Linked DNA regions of Homo sapiens. The protein of the gene in region 1 interacts with the protein of each later gene in a biochemical or structural test. Each region holds a gene or a part of one and is shown on either strand. Other genes may lie near its edges. The genes, in order: TSHR and FLNB.

Region 1 (9,059 bases):
AATGCTCAAGGGAGAGGAAAGTGATAAGGGGGAAAATCATAGATGCAGAAATGGAGAAACAATGGCTAAAAATTTTCCAAGTCTGATGAAAACCATAAACACACAAATCCAAGAATCTCAAAATACCCCAAGCACAGGAAACTTGAAGAAAAGTACATCAAGGCACATTACAGTGAAATTGCTCTCAACAAGTGACAAAATCTGAAAAGCATCCCGAGTAAGAAAAAAAAAAAAAAAAAAGCAGATTATAAAGGAGCAAAGAAAACTTTGACATAAGATTTGTCCTTGTAAACAATGCAAGCAACAAGAAAATGAAGCAATGTTTTTAAAGTACTGAAAGTTAAAAATAATGTCAATCTATGATTCTATACCTAGTGATGATATCCTTTTTTAAAAAGAAGACAAAAGTAATACTTTTTCAGACACAGAAAAGCTGGAATAATTTATAACCAGCAGATATGTATGACAAAAAAATTAATGAATGTCATTCAAGCAAAAGGAAAGTGACAGCAGTGAAAAATATGGATCAATACTAAGGAATGAGAAAGACCAGAAGGGGTAACTGTCTTATTATTTGAATCCCTTTAAAAGATAATAACACTGTATTATGGGATTTATAACCTATGTATGAGTAAAATGTATGGCGATGGAAGCATAAAGGTTAGGCAGGAGAGGAGAAATGGAGTATAAACAAGCATTCAACAAGTACAGTGTTGAAGGGTTCTTTTAAACCAAGTATAAATTGGTATAATATCAACTGAATGTGGACTATGATAACTTAAACGTACATGCTATAAACCTTAAAGCAATGAGTATAATAACCAGAGTTATAGCTAAGATTCAGCAAAGAAGATAAAACGGAATCATAAAAATTCCTTAATGACTCCAAACATATGTTTAAAATAAAAGGAGAATTGGATCAAATAACAATGGAGAAATAGAAAACTAATAGCAAGATTATTCACTTAAATGTAATGTGAATAATGACATTAAATGTAAATGATCTATACAAACCAAACAAAAGGCAGAGACGGCGAGACTGAAAGCAAGACCCAACTCTATGCTATTTATAAGAACTGCACATTTAATATAAAAACTCAAAGAGGTTAAAGTATGAAAAAATCATACCATGATAACGCTGATCAAAAGAAAGATGGATTGGCTCTACCAATAACAGAAAAGTAGATTGAAGAGCAAAGGATATCACAAGGTATAAAGAAGGCCATTTAATAACAATGAAGAGAACAAGAAAATAATAGTCCCAAACACGTATTTACCTAATAATAGAACTTCAAAATACATGAACTTTAAATTGCATGAAGAAAAACCTGATAGAAATGCAATGAGGGGGAAAAAAAACAAATCCCCAATTGTAGTAAAAAATTTCAGTACCCATGTCTCAACAATTGATATGACAAGTAGACTTTAAAGTTAGCAAAAATACAAAAGACTTAAACAATACTATCAACAACTTGACCTAATCACATTTGTAGAACACACAACTCCACAAAAGCTGATCACTTATTTTTTTTCAAGTACACACTGAACATTTTACCAAGATTGACCATATTCTGAATCATAAAATGAGTCTCACTAAATTTAAAAGTGTTCAAGTTATACAAACTATTTTCCCTGTCTATAATAGAATTAATTTACAAATTAACAACAGAATATCTGAGAATTCCTCAAATATTTGGAAACTAAACCACATGCTTCTAAAGAATCAAGGAAGAAATCTAAAAGAAAAACTAAAAAGTATTTTAAACTGAATACAAATGAAATTACAAGATATCGAAACCTGTGGGATGTCTCTAAAGTAGTATAGGGAAAGTCTACAGCACTACACACATACAATATTATAAAAGAAAAATGGCCTCAAATCAGTGACCTCAGTCTTAAGAAACCTCACCTTAAGAAGTAAAGAAGAGCCAATTAAACCCCAAGTAGGCAGAGTAATAAAATAATAAAGATCAGAGCATATATCAATGAAATAGAGCACAAAAAAAAATAGAGAATCTAAGAAACAAAAATTTGCTTCTTTGAGAATATGAATAAAATTGATAACCCTCTGGATAAAGTACTTAGGTGAAAAAAAGAAGATACAAATTATCAATATCAGGTATGACAGAGTTGACATCAGAATAGATTATATAAATATAAGAGGATAAGAGAATATTATGAACAAACTCATGCCAATAAATTCAACAATTTAGATGAAATAGACAATTCATTATATGACACAAACTGCCCAGGCTACCTCAAGAAGAATTATATGACTTGAATAGCCCTAAATCTATGTTTAGAAACTGGATTTATAGTTAAAAACCTTCCAATAAGGAAAATGCAAGGTTCCAACAGCTTCACTGGAGAATTCTACCAAATAAGTAAGAAAGGAATGATATCAGTTCTACACAAACTCCTATAGAAATTTAAAGAGGAAGGAATATTTCCCAACTTATTCTGTGATGGAAGAATTAATTGCCCTCATACCAAAATTTGACAAAGAAGTTACAGAAAAGAAAATAACAGACTACTATCCCTTGTGAACGTCTATGTAAAACTTTTAAACAGAATTTTAGCAAATCCAATGAAGGAGTATATTAAAAAGATGATAAACACGGCCGGGCACGGTGGTGCATGCCTGTAATCCCAGCACTTTGGGAGGCTGGGGCGGGCGGATCACGAGATCAGGAGTTCCAGACCAGCCTGGCCAACATGGTGAAACCCCGTCTCCACTAAAGACACAAAAAATTAACCGGGCGTGGTGGCGGGCGCCTGTAATCCCAGCTACTCTGGAGGCTGAGGCAGGAGAATCCCTTGAGCCCGGGAGGCGGAGGTTGCAGTGAGCCAAGATCGTGCCATTGCACTCCAGCCTGGGCGACAGGGCGAGACTCCGTCTCAAACAAACAAACAAAAAAAGGATAAATACATCATGATCAAGTGAGATTTATCCCTGCAATTCAAGGTGGGTTTAACATTCGAAAATCGATCACTATGATTCACCACATTAATAAACTACCATGGAACCATCACCACGAACAAGATTTAAAACAGTTTTATTACCCACAAAATTCTCTGGTGTTCATTTGTAGTCAGCCCTACCCTAGGCCTTTGCAACCGCTGATCTTTTTCCTGTCCCTATGGTTTTGCCTTTTTGAGAAAGCTATATAAATGAATCATTAATATGAATAATTACATATAAATACGTAATATTTTGAGTTTGGCTTTTTTCACTTAACATTATGCATTCAAGATTTGTTCCATAACAATACCATGGTAATTTTTAAAAAAACAACAACAAAAGCCCGGGTGCGGTGGCTCAAGCCTGTAATCCCAGCACTTTGGGAGGCCGAGGCGGGCGGATCACGAGGTCAGGAGATCGAGACCAGCCTGACTAACACAGTGAAACCCCGTCTCTACTAAAATTACGAAAAAATTAGCCGGGCGTGGTGGCGGGCGCCTGTAGTCCCAGCTACTCGGGAGGCTGAGGCAGCAGAATTGCTTGAACCTCGGAGGCAAAGGTTGCAGTGAGCCGAGATCGCGCCATTGCACTCCAGCCTGGGCGACGGAGCAAGACTCCGTTTCAAAAGAAAAAAAAAAAGAAAAGAAAATTTGTGCATGTTGTATCAGCAGTTCATTCATTTTTATTGCAGAATAGTATTCCAATGTGGAGGTATCAGAGTTTGTTTATCCATTATCTAGTCGCGAGACACTTGGTTCGTTTAGTGGTTATGAATAAAGCTTCTGTAAAATTTGGAATACACATATTTTAAATGTACGGTTTAATGAATTTTGATAAATGTATACATCCACTTAACCTCCAGCCTAATTACGATATGGAAACCCTGTGTGTTCCCTCCTGTCTTTTTCTAGTCAATCTTTCCTAACCTTTATTCTGATTCCCATAACCACAACTTTTTCCTTCCTGTCCTAGCCAAGTTCATATAAAAGGAATTATGCAGTATAGAAGGAATTGACATTCCTTTTATCCCAAGAGGAATAAGTGATTGAAGACTTTTAAGAAGGAAATAGGCACAATCTGATTTATGTTTGTAATGATCTTTTTGGCTACTGTGCGAAGAATGGTGAGTATGCCACTTAAGTATTATTTTTCTTCCCATCTTCCAGGGGGAATATGACTCAATGAAATTCTTGGGTCGACCAGAATTTCCATACTGGACCCATTATTAAGGGAACCTGGAATTATTTCTGCCATTCCCGATTCTTCCCAGCAGATGGCCCCAAAGTTCAGTTCCTGAATTGCCTCGCGGAGCCGCGGGCTGCAACGTGAGGCGGCCGCTGCCAGTCGACTCAACCACCGGAGTGGCCCCTGCAGTTGGATAGCAACGAGAATCCTCCAGGGGTGCAGGGCGACGGCTTCGGCCGCACCGCGGGCTAGCCAGGGCTGCGTGCCCGCCTCTGACCCTCAGCAGAGGTGTCTCTGGCCAGGAGGAGCTGAAGTTCTGCAGGACATTGGTCCGCCCGCGGACAGTCCACTCCGCGGGGACTTTCTCTGGATAAGGAGTGCGTGCGAGTGGCTCCCAGGCAGACAGGGTGTCTAGAAGGCTACACGCTAGGGAAGGTGGCTCCTTGGATTTAAAGAGGAGGAAAGGAGGGGGCATCTAAACTAGGCTTTGGAGAGAACTAATGGGAGGGGCGCCCGGGGTGGGGGGGCGGGCTGGAAAACAGAGGGGACAGCCAGGACTGGTGTTGGGTGTCAGGGAACAGACGGAGCGGACTGCGTGGGTCCAGCCAAGGAAAGTGAAGCAAGCAGACTTGTTTGGGTCAAGGTTGCCTAGGGAAGCGGAGCACTTAAGTGCCTCTTTTTCCCCTTCTCCAGCCTCCTCCACAGTGGTGAGGTCACAGCCCCTTGGAGCCCTCCCTCTTCCCACCCCTCCCGCTCCCGGGTCTCCTTTGGCCTGGGGTAACCCGAGGTGCAGAGCTGAGAATGAGGCGATTTCGGAGGATGGAGAAATAGCCCCGAGTCCCGTGGAAAATGAGGCCGGCGGACTTGCTGCAGCTGGTGCTGCTGCTCGACCTGCCCAGGGACCTGGGCGGAATGGGGTGTTCGTCTCCACCCTGCGAGTGCCATCAGGAGGAGGACTTCAGAGTCACCTGCAAGGATATTCAACGCATCCCCAGCTTACCGCCCAGTACGCAGACTCTGTGAGTACCCGGGAGAGATCAGGGTAGGACCCAGAGATCAAGGGCATCTGCAGAGGTGGCCCGAAGTGCACAAAAGCAGCTCAATAACAGCCCGAAGTAGTGTGTGAGTGTGTGTATGTGTGAGTGAATGTCTGTGTGTGTAGATGTGTGTGTGTGCTAAAAACTTAATCGCCCACACTTGGGAAGGTATCATTGTTGACATCCTCATTCCCAACACAGGAAAATGTTACAAAACTTTGGTGTACAATGACCGTGAGAGCTGTTCTTTCCAACAAGCTGCTATTCAGCACTTTGCCTAACCCTGGTTGAATCTGTTTTATTTGAATTAATAAGGATAATGGCATCTCAGGAACTGACCTTTTTGATCTTACCTTGGGTAATAAAAAATTGCAAAAATATGTATTTCTCCTTTTTGTTTCTCTAGATGGGAGGTTATCTTAGCAGTTCTGCTGATTCATCAAATTGTTGACAAAGGTTTAAGCAGGGGCCCTTTTTAAAATGAACTGTCTATACAGTATCTGTAAGTTACTTACTCAAATGTGAACTGCCAGTGAAATAGTACGTCCAGAACCCTGCTTTGTGATAGAGGTATAAAGAAATGAAATTTCATAAAAGTATAGTACATTTATCTGCATGTTAAATGTTACCAGATTAGAAACCTGATGTTAAATAAGATTATACACACACAACCTGTTTCTTAACAGCAATTTAAATCAGTGATCATTGAAATTGTAGACAAAACCAAGGGAATAAAGTCTGTCTTGATTAGTTAAAAAGAGAACAGAAAGAAAGGACAGTAAAACAACCTAGGCTGGTTAAATCCAGTTAAGATAAAAAAAAATGCAGGTTATTAAAGAAAATGTTGATAGATGAAAAGAAATGGGAAAGTTGCACCTCTAGATTTTCTCAAGAATTTAGCTCATGAAGACTATTTAACAGTAGATGAATATTTGAGCACAGAGATATATTTCTGTGCTCAGAGATATCCTAGTGTCTTAGCACACCTGAATTAATTAGTTCAATAACCTCCAAACAGTGTGGTAGTCATTCTCCATGCTGCCACCACAGAATAAGATGTGTAAAAGGTGTAATGGCCTCTTGATTACACCTCTACATAGGTTGCTTGTCACCTCTAGAATAAAATTCTTTTGTGCAGCCTACCAGATCTTTCAAGACCTAGTCAAGTCTTTCCAACCTCATTGCTCCTCATTTCTCTAACTTCCCCCTCCTGCTGAGAACTTCTGGCACTTCCCCAAAGGTCCCTGCTGTTACAGCTGCCCTTGCCTTTCTTCCCACTTTCTGGCCCCTCTGCCTGAAGCACATTTCACCCATTTCTTCACCCAGCTAATGCCTACTCCCAGATCCAGATCCTGGATCAACCCTGCAGGAAGCTTCTCCTGACCCATGACCTTCAGGCTGGGTAAGCTATACCCCCCTTCCCAACAGCGTTCTCTGCATGAACCTAACCCTAGCCCTTAGACATTGTCTACTTTCTTGTAACTTGTTATTTATTTGCATGCCCACTCAAGCAGGACACAAGCTTCTCTAACATAGGGAACTGCCATTCAACCCCGAATTCCTGAAACCCTGGAACTACTTAGACACTCAGAAAAAACAAAAAAAAAAAAACTTAAGTGAATAAATAAACAAATGAATATGCCAGGTCTCTGAATGTCCACTCTATGTTGGGGAGAAAGAAATCCAAAGACATCACTTCTTCAGAGACTTCTTTAACAGTGGCAGAAATTCAAGTCATTGAAGAGAGATGTGGCTCTGACAGTGAAAAGGAACTCGTAGACATCCTGTTTAAAATTCCACCAAAAGTTGAGAAAGAAAGGGTAATGGAGAATGAGCAATGGAACAGGAGTCAGGAAACCAGCATTCTCTTTAGCCCTTCTTTACTAACCATGAAATTGTGTAAGATGACTGATTTGGAAGGAGCCAAATTTCCTTCTGGGTAAAAGAGAATGTTCAACTAGGTGCTTTCTAGGTGATGACATGATGCTGATGAGAATAGTCTGAGGGAAGGCACTGAATCACAAGAAAAAGACATAAAGACAGTGGCAAGGAGGATCTGCCCTTGAGAATAATGGAGAGGGAGGTAGTATGTCCTGAAGAATAAAGTTATTCTGAGATCGAAAAGAGAAACCTGATAAAAAGTGTGGGTAAAACAAAATGGTAGTCTCCTTTGAACAATGGCTACTACCATCTGCAACAGTAGAAAAATGATTTTTAAATCTTTTGGGGGCGGTAGAACTCTTTGTTGAAGAAAAGCATATGAGAGAAGTAAAACATGTAAAGCTAACAATTATATTGTGTTTACTTACGGGGGCGGGGGGTCCTGTTCTCAGCGCTTTGCATGAACTCACCCAGTGAATCCTCACCAAATCCAATTAAGTAGGTGATGTTATTATGCTCATTTTATAGATGAGGACCTTGAGGCACAAAAATAAAATGAAGTAATTTGCTCAATGTTGCACAGCTTGTAAGTGGTAAAGTCAGGATTTGAATATCATATCATCAACTATGGAGCCTGCACCCTTAAGCCACCACTCTCAGATGAGAAGTGTGTCTCACCACACCAGTGTTCCCCTGATGGTCATAGGCTTTGGAGAAAAAAGTCTGAAAACAAGTCACATTCAGTAAACCGACTGATAACCTCGGGGGCTATTCATCAGATGCAAGAACTCAGAAAGCAGGAGGTTAGCAGGGAAAGGAAAGAAGAAGGAAGGAAGAAAGAGAGAGTGGAAGAGAGGCAAGGAGGACAAGAAAGACTAAGTTAGTCTTTCTTGACAAGAAAATCTAGATCTTTTTTTACATCTTTCTAGACAAGAAAGATCTAAGTTATGGAAGGTATTCCTTGCTGAAATAAACCAAGTTTTTGTCATTAAAAAGCCGTTCTGGGTGGTGACCTCTTTTTGGAATCTACTTAAATTATACAGGATCTACTACTGAGGCATGTTCTCTCACAAGTTTTGTATTATTCAGAGTGTACCTCTTTTTAAAGTTTTTGAAGAGCTTACACTGGTTTAAAATGTAAGGTATTTTGTTCCTGTAGAGTTATTTGCATTACTTCTGCAACCTTCATTAAGATGCTGTATAACCACTTCTTAGACATTTTACAAATTATGATGGTGCCGAGAACAACTCTTTCTAAACTTTATCTTCTACTCATAGATTATTGTTCTGAAAGGTAAACAGCTCTCTTGCCCTACTACCCATATCCCAGCCCCGTGGTCTTATGGATGCAGGGGAGAGAGTTACGGACTGTGGCCCTCACTGAAGAAGTGATGCTGTATCTTTTCCTCACTCCTCCCCTCCAGAAGGGTATGATGCTTTACCTGAGTGGAAGGTGAGGGAGAGCTGGGATCCCTACTTCCCCCACTGCCAGTGGAACATTCTAGAATCTTTGATGTGTAGGTAGTTTGAAAAAAATCACTCTCTTCCATTGAAAATTACTGATTTAAGGAAACTTAAATGAAGCAAGAGAATAAAATTAAAAATTTAAATGTTGGCATATAATTATAGATCATATATCTCAAAACCAAGGATAACAAGATTGACCCATCACCCTCTCTTACTCAGAAAGTTGCCATTTGTTGCCTCTGTGCATGAGAAGATCCTTCCTTCTCTGAATAAGGAGGTAGAAAGGATTTGACAACCATTCTGCACCACTCTATGTATTTGTGTGGATTCTTCCTCCAGAAAGTGCTGGCACGCCTTACTGTGTTGTTTTAACCCTGCTTTCAGTTTCATTATGACAGTAACTGCTACATCTGCCTTCTCCAACCCCACTGCCATCTGTGGTCTTGGGTTTCGACGAAGTAAGTGGTTTGGACACCTGTGTGCCTTCAGATATGTTTCTGAAGGAGCTGTTGTTTTCAGGTTCTGTT
Region 2 (9,094 bases), on another chromosome or scaffold:
AGGCCGGGGGCGGTGGCTCACACTTGTGGAGGGCCACCTCCACAAGTTGCAGTGAGCTGAGATCGCACCACTGCACTCCAGCCTGGGCAACAAGAGTGAAACTCCATCTCAAAAAAATAAAACAAACAAACAAACAAACAAACAAACACTTTTTATTGCCTGGGTGTGGTGGCTCACGCCTGTAATCCCAGCACTTTGGGAGGCTGAGGCAGGAGGATTGCTTGAGCCCAGGAATTTTAGACCAGCCTGGGCAACATGGCGAAACCCTGTCTCTACAAAAAATACAAAAATTAGCTGGGCATGGTGGTGCGCCCCTATAGTCCCAGCTACTCAGGAGGCTGAAGTGGGAAGATAACCTGAGCCCAGGGAGGTCGATAATAAAATTTTAAAAATTTTTAGTAGAGATGGGATTTCACCGTGTTGGACCAGGCTGATCTCGAACTCCTGGCCTCAGGTGATCTGTGCACCTCGACCTCCCAAAGTGCTGGGATTACAAGCGTGAGCCACTGTGCCCAGCCAACATACTTGTTTATTATCAAATATTATATACTGTACATAATTGTATGTTTTATATATGTATGTATGTGTGTGTGTGTATATATATATATATATATATATATATTTTTTTTTTTTTTTTAGACAGAGTCTTGCTCTGTCACCCAGGCTGGAGTGCAACGGCACCATCTTAGCTCACTGCAACCTCTGCCTCCTGGGTTCAAACCATTCTCCCGCCTCAGCCTCCCAAGTAGCTGAGATTACAGGCACTCGCCATCATGCCCCACTAATTTTTTTTGTATTTTTGTAGAGATGGGGTTCCACCGTGTTGGCCAGGCTGGTCTCGAACTCCTGACCTCAGGTGATCCGCCTACCTCAGCCTCCCAAAGTGCTGGGATTAGAGGCGTAACCCACCGTGCCTGGCCAATAAAAAGTTTTAAATACAGAAAAAAGCTTACAGAATAAGGATTTAAAGAAAGAAAGAATTTTTGTACAGCTTATAATGTGTTTGTGTTTTAAGCTGTTATTACAAAAGCCAAAAAGTCAAAGAATTAAAAAATATATAAAATTAAAAAATTACAGTAAGCTAAGGTTAATTTCTTTTTTATTTTTCTTTTTTCTTTTTTTTTTTTTTTTGAGACGGAGTCTCACTCTATTGGCAGGTTGGAGTGCAGTGGCGCGATCTCGGCTCACTGTAACCTCCACCTCCCGGATTCAAGCAACTCTCCTGCCTCAGCCTTCCGAGTAGCTGGGACTACAGGTGCGTGCCACCCCACCCAGCTAGTTTTTGTATTTTCAGTAGAGACAGGGTTTCACCACGTTGGCCAGGATGGTCTTGATCTCTTGACCTCGTGATCCACCCGCCTCAGCCTCCTAAAGTGCTGGGATTACAGGGGTGAGCCACCGTGCCCGGCCTCTAAGGTTAATTTCTTATTGCAGAAGAAAAAGATTAAAAAAATAAACTTAGTATAGCCTCAGTGTACAGTGTTTATAAAGTCTACAGTAGTGCACAGTAATGTCCTAGGCCTTCACAGTCACGTACCACTCACTCACTGACTCACCCAGAGCAAATTCCAGTGCTGCAAGCTCCATTCATGGCAAGTGCCCATACAGGTAGACTATTTTTATCTTTTTATTTATTTATTTAGTTAGTTAATTTTTGAGATGGAGTCTCTCTCTGTCTTCCAGGCTGGAGCGCAGTGGTGCGATCTTGGCTCACTGTAACCTCTGCCTCCTGGGTTCAAGCAATTCTCCTACCCAAGCCTCCCGAGTAGCTGGGATTACAGGCGCCTGCCACCATGCCTGGCTAATTTTTGTATTTTTAGTAGAGACCGAGTTTTGCCATGTTGGTCAGGCTGGTCTCGAACTCCTGATCTCAAGTGATCCACCCGCCTTGGCCTCCCAAAGAGCTGGGATTACAGGTGTGAGCCACCACGCCCCGCCCAATTTTATCTTTTATATCGTATTTTTATTATACCCTTTTAATGTTTAGATTCACAAATACTTATTGTAACAATTGCCTACAGTATCAATATAGTAACTTGCTGTACAGGTTTGTAGCCCAGGGGCAACAGGTGATCCCCTCTAACCTGGATGTGTGGTCGCCTGTACCATCTAGGTCTGTGTGAACACACTCTCTGGTGTTCCTATCATGACAAAATCCTCTAGCATTCCTGTTGTTAAGCAACACATGAGTGTAGTTACTGAGTCCCTATTGTGAGCCAGGGCCGGGTAATATATTCTCTCCCCCAGGCTGTTGTGACCATTTCCAGTGAGTCAGTTCATCTGTCTGAACAAAGCACTCTGGCATTGATTGTATGCAAATAACCTGTTACAGAATGGTTCTACCCATAAACTGGCTGGCCTCTTTTGAGCAACCCTCAAAGTTGCAAGCCCTTGCCCTCTGTCCTGGTCAACCTCTCTTCCTCAGAAGCTTGCCTGCTCTGAACTCCTCTCCCAAACCGGGTTAGGAGCCCCTTCTCTGGTATCAGGGCACCCTGTGCCTCTCTTACAGACTTGCATTATGGTTCTAACTGTGCTGTGTGGCCTGGGCAAGCCGCTCAACCACTCGGTTATTTCTTCTTTTTTTTTTTTTGAGACAGAGTTTCACTGTTATTGCCCAGGCTGGAGTGCAATCTTGGCTCACCACAACCTCTGCCTCCTGGGTTCAAGCGATTCTCCTGCCTCAGCCTCCCAAGTAGCTGGGATTACAGGCATGCGCCACCACGCCCAGCTAATTTTTTGTATTTTTAGTAGAGCTAGGGTTTTTTCATGTTGGTCAGGCTGGTCTCGAACTCCTGACCTCAGGTGATCTGCCCACCTTGGCCTCCCAAGGTGCTGGGATTACAGGTGTGAGCCACTGCACCCGACTTGAAAGAAATTGCTTTGCACTGTGCTTGGCACAGAGGAACAGCAGGTGTTCATTCAATGCTTGCTGTTGTAATTATTCAGGCTTTTATCAACAGAGGGCTGGCCTGAGACTCTGCCATATCTCAGAACCTAGCACAGAACCTGGATGAGTACAGAGTAAGTGCTCAATGTATGCTGTGGTAGGCAGAGTAATAGCCCCCAAAGACGTTCACATCCTAACTCTCAGGACCTGTGAACATTCCCTTAAATGGCAAAGGGGAATTAAGGTTGCAAACAGGATTAGGGTTCTTAATCGGCTGATTTTAAAATAGGGAGATCATGTTGGACTAACCAGCTGGCCCAATGTCATCTTAAGAGTCCTTAAAAGGGCCAGGTGTGGGGAGGTTGAAGCTGCAGGGAGCCGAGATTGAGTCATAGCACTCCAGTTTGGGAGACGGAGTGAGACAAAAAAAAGGCTGGGCAAGGTGGCTCATGCCTGTAATCCCATCACTTTGGGAGGCAGAGGCTGGTGGATCGCTTGAGGTCAGGAGTTCAAGACCAGCCTGGCCAACATGGTGAAAGCCCGTCTCTATTAAAAATACAAAAATTAGCGGAGCGTGGTGGCGGGTGCCTGTAATCCCAGCCACTCAGGAGGTTGAGGCAAGAGAATTGCTTGAACCCAGGAGGAGGAGGTTGCAGTGAGCCGAGATTGCACCACTGGACTCTAGCCTGGGCAACGGAGTAAGACTCCATCGCAGGAAAAAAAAAAAAAAGGAAGATGTGCCTATGGAGAGAGGACTGTCTGAGGTCTGAGAGACTCCACCTGACATTGCAGGCTTGCTTTTCTGTTTTTTTTTTTTTTTTTTTTTTTTTTGAGACGGAGTTTTGCTCTGTCGCCCAGGCTGGAGTGCAATGGCACCATCTCAGCTCACTGTAACCTCTGCCTCCCAGGTTCAAGCGATTCTCCTATCTCAGCCTTCCCAGTAGCTGGGATTACAGGTACGCGCCACCACACCTGGCTAATTTTTGTATTTTAAGTAGAGATGGGGTTTTACCATGTTGGCCAGGCTGGTCTCGAACTCCTGACCTCAGGTGATCCACCCACCTTGGCCTCCCAAAGTGCTGGGATTACAGGTGTGAGCCATTGTGCCCAGCCCATTGCAGGCTTTCACAGAGAAAAGGGGCAGGAGTCAGGCGCGCAGGCAGCTTCTGGAAGTTAGAAAACACAAGGAAACAGATTCTTCCCTACAGCCTCCAGAAGGGAATGCATCCTGCCAACACTTTGTTTTTAGCTCAGCAAGACCTGTGTGGGCCATCGAACCTACAGAACTGAAGGATAATACATTTGTGGGTGTGTGTTTTCAAAGACACTAAGTTTTGGTAACTTGTTACAGCAGTAACTGGAAACTAAGACATGCAACAAGCCTTATTGTTCATTTTTACCACCACTACTGGGCTGTTGGTTATGGTGGAATTACACTTTTCTCTTCCATTAGGCTGTGTGAACTCCTTGAGGTTGTGCAATACGTTTGTCTGATTTACTACTGGTTAGCAGGCTCTGAGAAGAATGGCTGGTACACAGGCGGAGCTCAATAAAAGCCCTTACTGAATTTTATTCAATCTATATGTGGATGAAGACCTCCGCCCCGCGCGCCCCTCCCGCAAGTCCCACTGAGGCCCGACCCATTCTGTCCGGCTCCCAGCCCCCGCGGGTCCCCCCACCCCGGGGCTGACCGGGTGATTCAGGCAGCCCTACATCCTGCTGGGGTGGTGGGCTTCGAGCGCGGGTCCCAGGACGCAGTGGGGCGCAGTGCCTGCGGCAGGCGGCAGGAGGCGAGCGTGGCCCAGGAACTCCCGCGGGAGGGTCGGGACGGGGCGGGGCTTGGGGGCGGGGCGGCTCAGCGCGCAGGCGCGGGGCCAGGCGCCTCGCGCGGCCAGGGGCGGGCGGCCGCAGAGCAGCACCGGCCGTGGCTCCGGTAGCAGCAAGTTCGAACCCCGCTCCCGCTCCGCTTCGGTTCTCGCTCCTTCGGCCCTTGGGCCTCCAAACACCAGTCCCCGGCAGCTCGTTGCGCATTGCGCTCTCCCCGCCACCAGGATGCCGGTAACCGAGAAGGATCTAGCTGAGGACGCGCCTTGGAAGAAGATCCAGCAGAACACGTTCACACGCTGGTGCAACGAGCACCTCAAGTGCGTGAACAAACGCATCGGCAACCTGCAGACCGACCTGAGCGACGGGCTGCGGCTCATCGCGCTGCTCGAGGTGCTCAGCCAGAAGCGCATGTACCGCAAGTACCATCAGCGGCCCACCTTTCGCCAGATGCAGCTCGAGAATGTGTCCGTGGCGCTCGAGTTCCTGGACCGTGAGAGCATCAAGCTCGTGTCCATCGGTGAGTTCTCTGGCCGGGCCCAGGCGCCCACTGTGGTGCCGACCCGCCCCCGCGCGTGCACCCCTGCGGAGGGCGAGGATTTCCCGCAGCGCGCCCCCACCTCGGAGATAAGGGGGAGTCGTCCCCAGGGGTGGGTTATAGGGGGCCTAGACCCCCTCCCCGGTGTCTTCCCCTGGGATGGGACCTGTTGTGATCGCTCCCCGCCATCCGCCCCAGCAGTGCACCTTTGGCTGGCTAAGGGTTGAGGGTTTGGGCTGGGGTCACAGGAGGAGAGGTGGAGTTGTTGCATTTCTCTACACCTGGGGCGCCCCTATGGGAGCTAGGGGACTAGAAACCCTCGTTCGCTGTCCCCGGGGGCGGGCCCTAGGGTCAGATGCTCCGCGGAGTGCTCTCCCTGCTGCGCCCAGGTTGGTGCTCTCAGAGGCAGCTGAATGGGCGTTGGCTCGGAGGCCGGGCCGTGAGACCTGAGGAGGAACCGTTCTCTGCGCCTGGGGCCTCCCTGCCCAGGTGGAGACAGAGACCTGGTACCTTCCCCTGCCGTCGCTGGAATGGGTGTGGGCCCCGAGGTTGCAAGGGTAGGCGCGGGTGTGTGTCCTCGCTCTCTCTGCTCCCAGCTCAGCTCTGGCCGCGCGCCGCAGGTTGAACCCACTCCTTGCTGCCGAAGTTATAATTTAGAGATGGTGGTGGTAACAGTAATTGCTGTCTTGTAGGGAGCCCAACTAGCGTCCACTGTGTACCGTCAGCCTTCTAAGTTATCTCCGTCCCTACGCATCCTGCCATCTGGGGTGAGGCTAGACCCATTTTACAGATAAGGGGGTCCGGAGGGTTAATTGACCTGTCCAAGGTCAGCAAGTAGGGCCCAGCTGAGAACTGAAGGAAGTGGGCAACAGTTAGAAGGAGGCTTTGTTTTCCTCTCCTCTCCCAAACCTACACCAGGGTCTTCCTGAAAGGAGGGAGGGAATTGGTGTCTCTTGCTGGACTGGGCCTTCTGGTCTGGGGAGGAAGAATAAGGATGAAGTCTCCCTTGTGGTCTGAGATAGTTGGAGGCTTCCCAGAGGGCCACAAGGCTACTGATAGTGTGGGCTGTGATGGTAGGGGCTGTGATGTGTGTGTGCATGTGGGCGTTTGTGCAGAGAACGTGTGTACACACATAGCATGTGTGTATAGCATGTGCATATGCAAAGAGTTTGCATGTACACGGAATGTATGCAGAGAATGTGTATCCACCTACACGTGTGTATGGGTGTGTGTATGTGTGTGTGTGTATGTGGGTGGGTGGGTGTGGGTTGGGGCAGAGGAGGGTTCTGGGTCTGGATCTCTTCCTAAGGAGAACCAGGGACTGGCCCTGGCCTGTGATTTGGGTCTCTTCCTGAGGAAACCAGGTCACTATAGTGACCCTAGTGACAGGAAGAAAGGGAGATGGGTGTGGCTGCCAGGACTTTCTCCAGTGGAAAAGGGATTCCCTCTAGGCTGAGCCTCCCCTGGGCCTTAGGGCCTCACCCTTCCCTTCCCCCACACCTGTCCTGGCAGGTAAGGCTGCTTCCTGCTTCCTGGGCCCAGATGGCAGCCGCACCACCCAGCTGATCTCCAGCAGCCCTCCCCCTCCCCAAGGGTGGCTTCCCTGCAGAAGAATCTGCATGGCACGCTGTTGTCTTCTTTCTGGGGTCCATCTCCTGTACTGGGGAGGGAGAACCTCAGAATCTCCTGGAATTCTTTACCATTCAGAAACCAGCCTCCCCTCTGAAGAATCCCAAGGCCCAGCTGGGCTCAATTTGGATCTGTTCTTTGTTTTAAAAATGTGTATTTATTTAATTAACTGAATAAAGAAACTTAAAGTAAACCAGAAGTATCCAAATACGACATGAAATCTCTAAAACAACAACAAAACCAAACCAAACCGCAGCACTAGCAAATCACAGACTGCCTGATCTACCCACTGTTTACAGAGGCAGCAGCTACTTCCAGCACTGTCTCTCATCAGTGCCCGGGGCTGTGGGTCTCATTCTAGATTTTGTCTACATTTTTTTACATGGTTCTCCTGATTCCCTGCTCCCCCTCCCCACCACCGCCCCGCCTGGAGATGGAGCCTTGCTCTGTCTCCAGGCTGGAGTACAATGGTGCCATCTCTGCTCACTGCAACCTCCACCTCCCGGGTTCAAGCGATTCTTCTGCCTCAGCCTCCTGAGTAGCTAGAATTACAGGCACATGCCACCACGCCCGGCTAATTTTTGTATTCTTAGTAGAGATGGGGTTTCACCATGTTGGCCAGGCTGGTCTCGAACTCTTGACCTCATGATATGCCCGCCTCGGCCTCCCAAGTGCGGGGGTTACAGCCCTGAGCCACCGCGCCCAGCCCGGTCCTCCTTTTATTTTCGAATCCACTCAGGCCCTAGCTACTCCCATTGTCCCGACGTTCCAGGGTTAGTTAGCTTCCCTTCCTCTGTGCTGGGCCTGTGGGCTGTTGGCAGCTTCTTCCTGTTCCTACCACAACTTGCATTCTATTTTTTTCCTTTTTAATGATTTCTTGGATCATATTCCCCAGAGTGACATTCCTGGGTTAAAGGGTGTGACCACATTTATGACTTGTATCATTGGCTGCCTAATTGCTCTCCCGAGAGATCTTGCAACAAACAGGTTTTCCAGCCTCTGGAGACCACAGAGAGCCCTGGCAAGTGCCAGGACTGCTGTGGGGATAAAGCAGGAGGCTTCTTCCCTAAGCTCTTGAGGCTGTTGTGGGTAATGGTCCTTCATCCTTCAAGGCAAAGTTACCTCCAGCTTGGACTAAGGTTCATATATTCACTGCTTAGGTTGTGTTACATTGTGCTGACAATGACACTAGCTTCAATTTGGGGGCACCTACTGGGTGTTAAGTGTGTTCTGTTGATCACCCCATTGAATTTTCATGCTAATCATTGATTGACAGCAACTACTGCCCTATCTCTAATGATCTGCTTCTGCAAGTCACTTAGAGAGTTCAGGGCTTAACACTGTCCTGGGCATGTGTTGCTTAGAAAATGGCGCCTGTTAATTAAATAAGGTGCTGTCTAATAATTATCTCAAAAGTAATGCCAGGGCTGGATGCCGTGGCTCACGCCTGTAATCCCAGCACTTTAGGAGGCCAAGGTGGGTGGATCACCTGAGGTCAGGAGTTCGAGACCAGCCTGGACAACATGGTGAAACCCTAGCTCTACTAAAAATACAAAAATTAGCTGGGCATGGTGGTGCACACCTGTAGTCCCAGCTACTCGGGAGGCTGAGGCAGGAGAATTGCTTGAACCCGGGAGGTGGAGGTTGCAGTGAGCCGAGGTCTTTGTGTAACTGCACTCCAGCCTGGGAGAGCGAGACTCTGACTCAAAAAAAAAAAAAAAAAAAAAAGTCATGCCCGAATGGTTTGCACACCGAAGGGACGTTCAAAATTAGGGGAGAACAGCCTGGTTGTTTGTTTCTGTTTGGTTGATCATACTCTTGCCATGGTTAGTATTATTATCTTTATTTAAAGATGGGAAACAGGAGTGAAGCCACTTGTGGAGGTGACCCAGCTAGCTAGTAAATGGTGTCTGAAACCCAGGTCTGCCCAGCTGTTGAATTGGAGCCTTAACTGACTTGCCTTCCAGTTTCAGAGATGAGTAAAATACAGCTTTTCTCTCCACATCAGAGGGTCCCTGCAACACTAGGTTTGCAAGTCTTAGGTGTTAGGGTGGTGGCTGGATACCCACACTCTGAACCTCTGACCTTGGACAAAATAGGGATGTCAGGGCCTTCCATGATTGGCAGGATGAATCCTCTGGGCTGTGATGAAGGTCTCACAAGTTGAGAGTCAGCCGGGAATTAAGTGGGATCAGTTTGCCTCTTGTGTTTTCCTC

The links.
Region 2: the proteins of TSHR (region 1) and FLNB interact in a test that uses a peptide from one of them, tested with the Homo sapiens proteins (one study listed by BioGRID).

Annotation. Positions count from the first base shown.
Region 1 is NC_000014.9:80,950,685-80,959,743, forward strand, and holds the start of TSHR (thyrotropin receptor isoform 1 precursor), read left to right. Parts: upstream 1-4,936; 5' UTR 4,937-4,996; coding exon 4,997-5,166; intron 5,167-7,493; exon of another isoform or gene 7,494-7,601; intron 7,602-8,747; exon of another isoform or gene 8,748-8,818; intron 8,819-9,059. UniProt on the Homo sapiens protein: Receptor for the thyroid-stimulating hormone (TSH) or thyrotropin. Also acts as a receptor for the heterodimeric glycoprotein hormone (GPHA2:GPHB5) or thyrostimulin. The activity of this receptor is mediated by G proteins which activate adenylate cyclase.
Region 2 is NC_000003.12:58,003,626-58,012,719, forward strand, and holds the start of FLNB (filamin-B), read left to right. Parts: upstream 1-4,796; 5' UTR 4,797-4,939; coding exon 4,940-5,231; intron 5,232-9,094. UniProt on the Homo sapiens protein: Connects cell membrane constituents to the actin cytoskeleton. May promote orthogonal branching of actin filaments and links actin filaments to membrane glycoproteins. Anchors various transmembrane proteins to the actin cytoskeleton.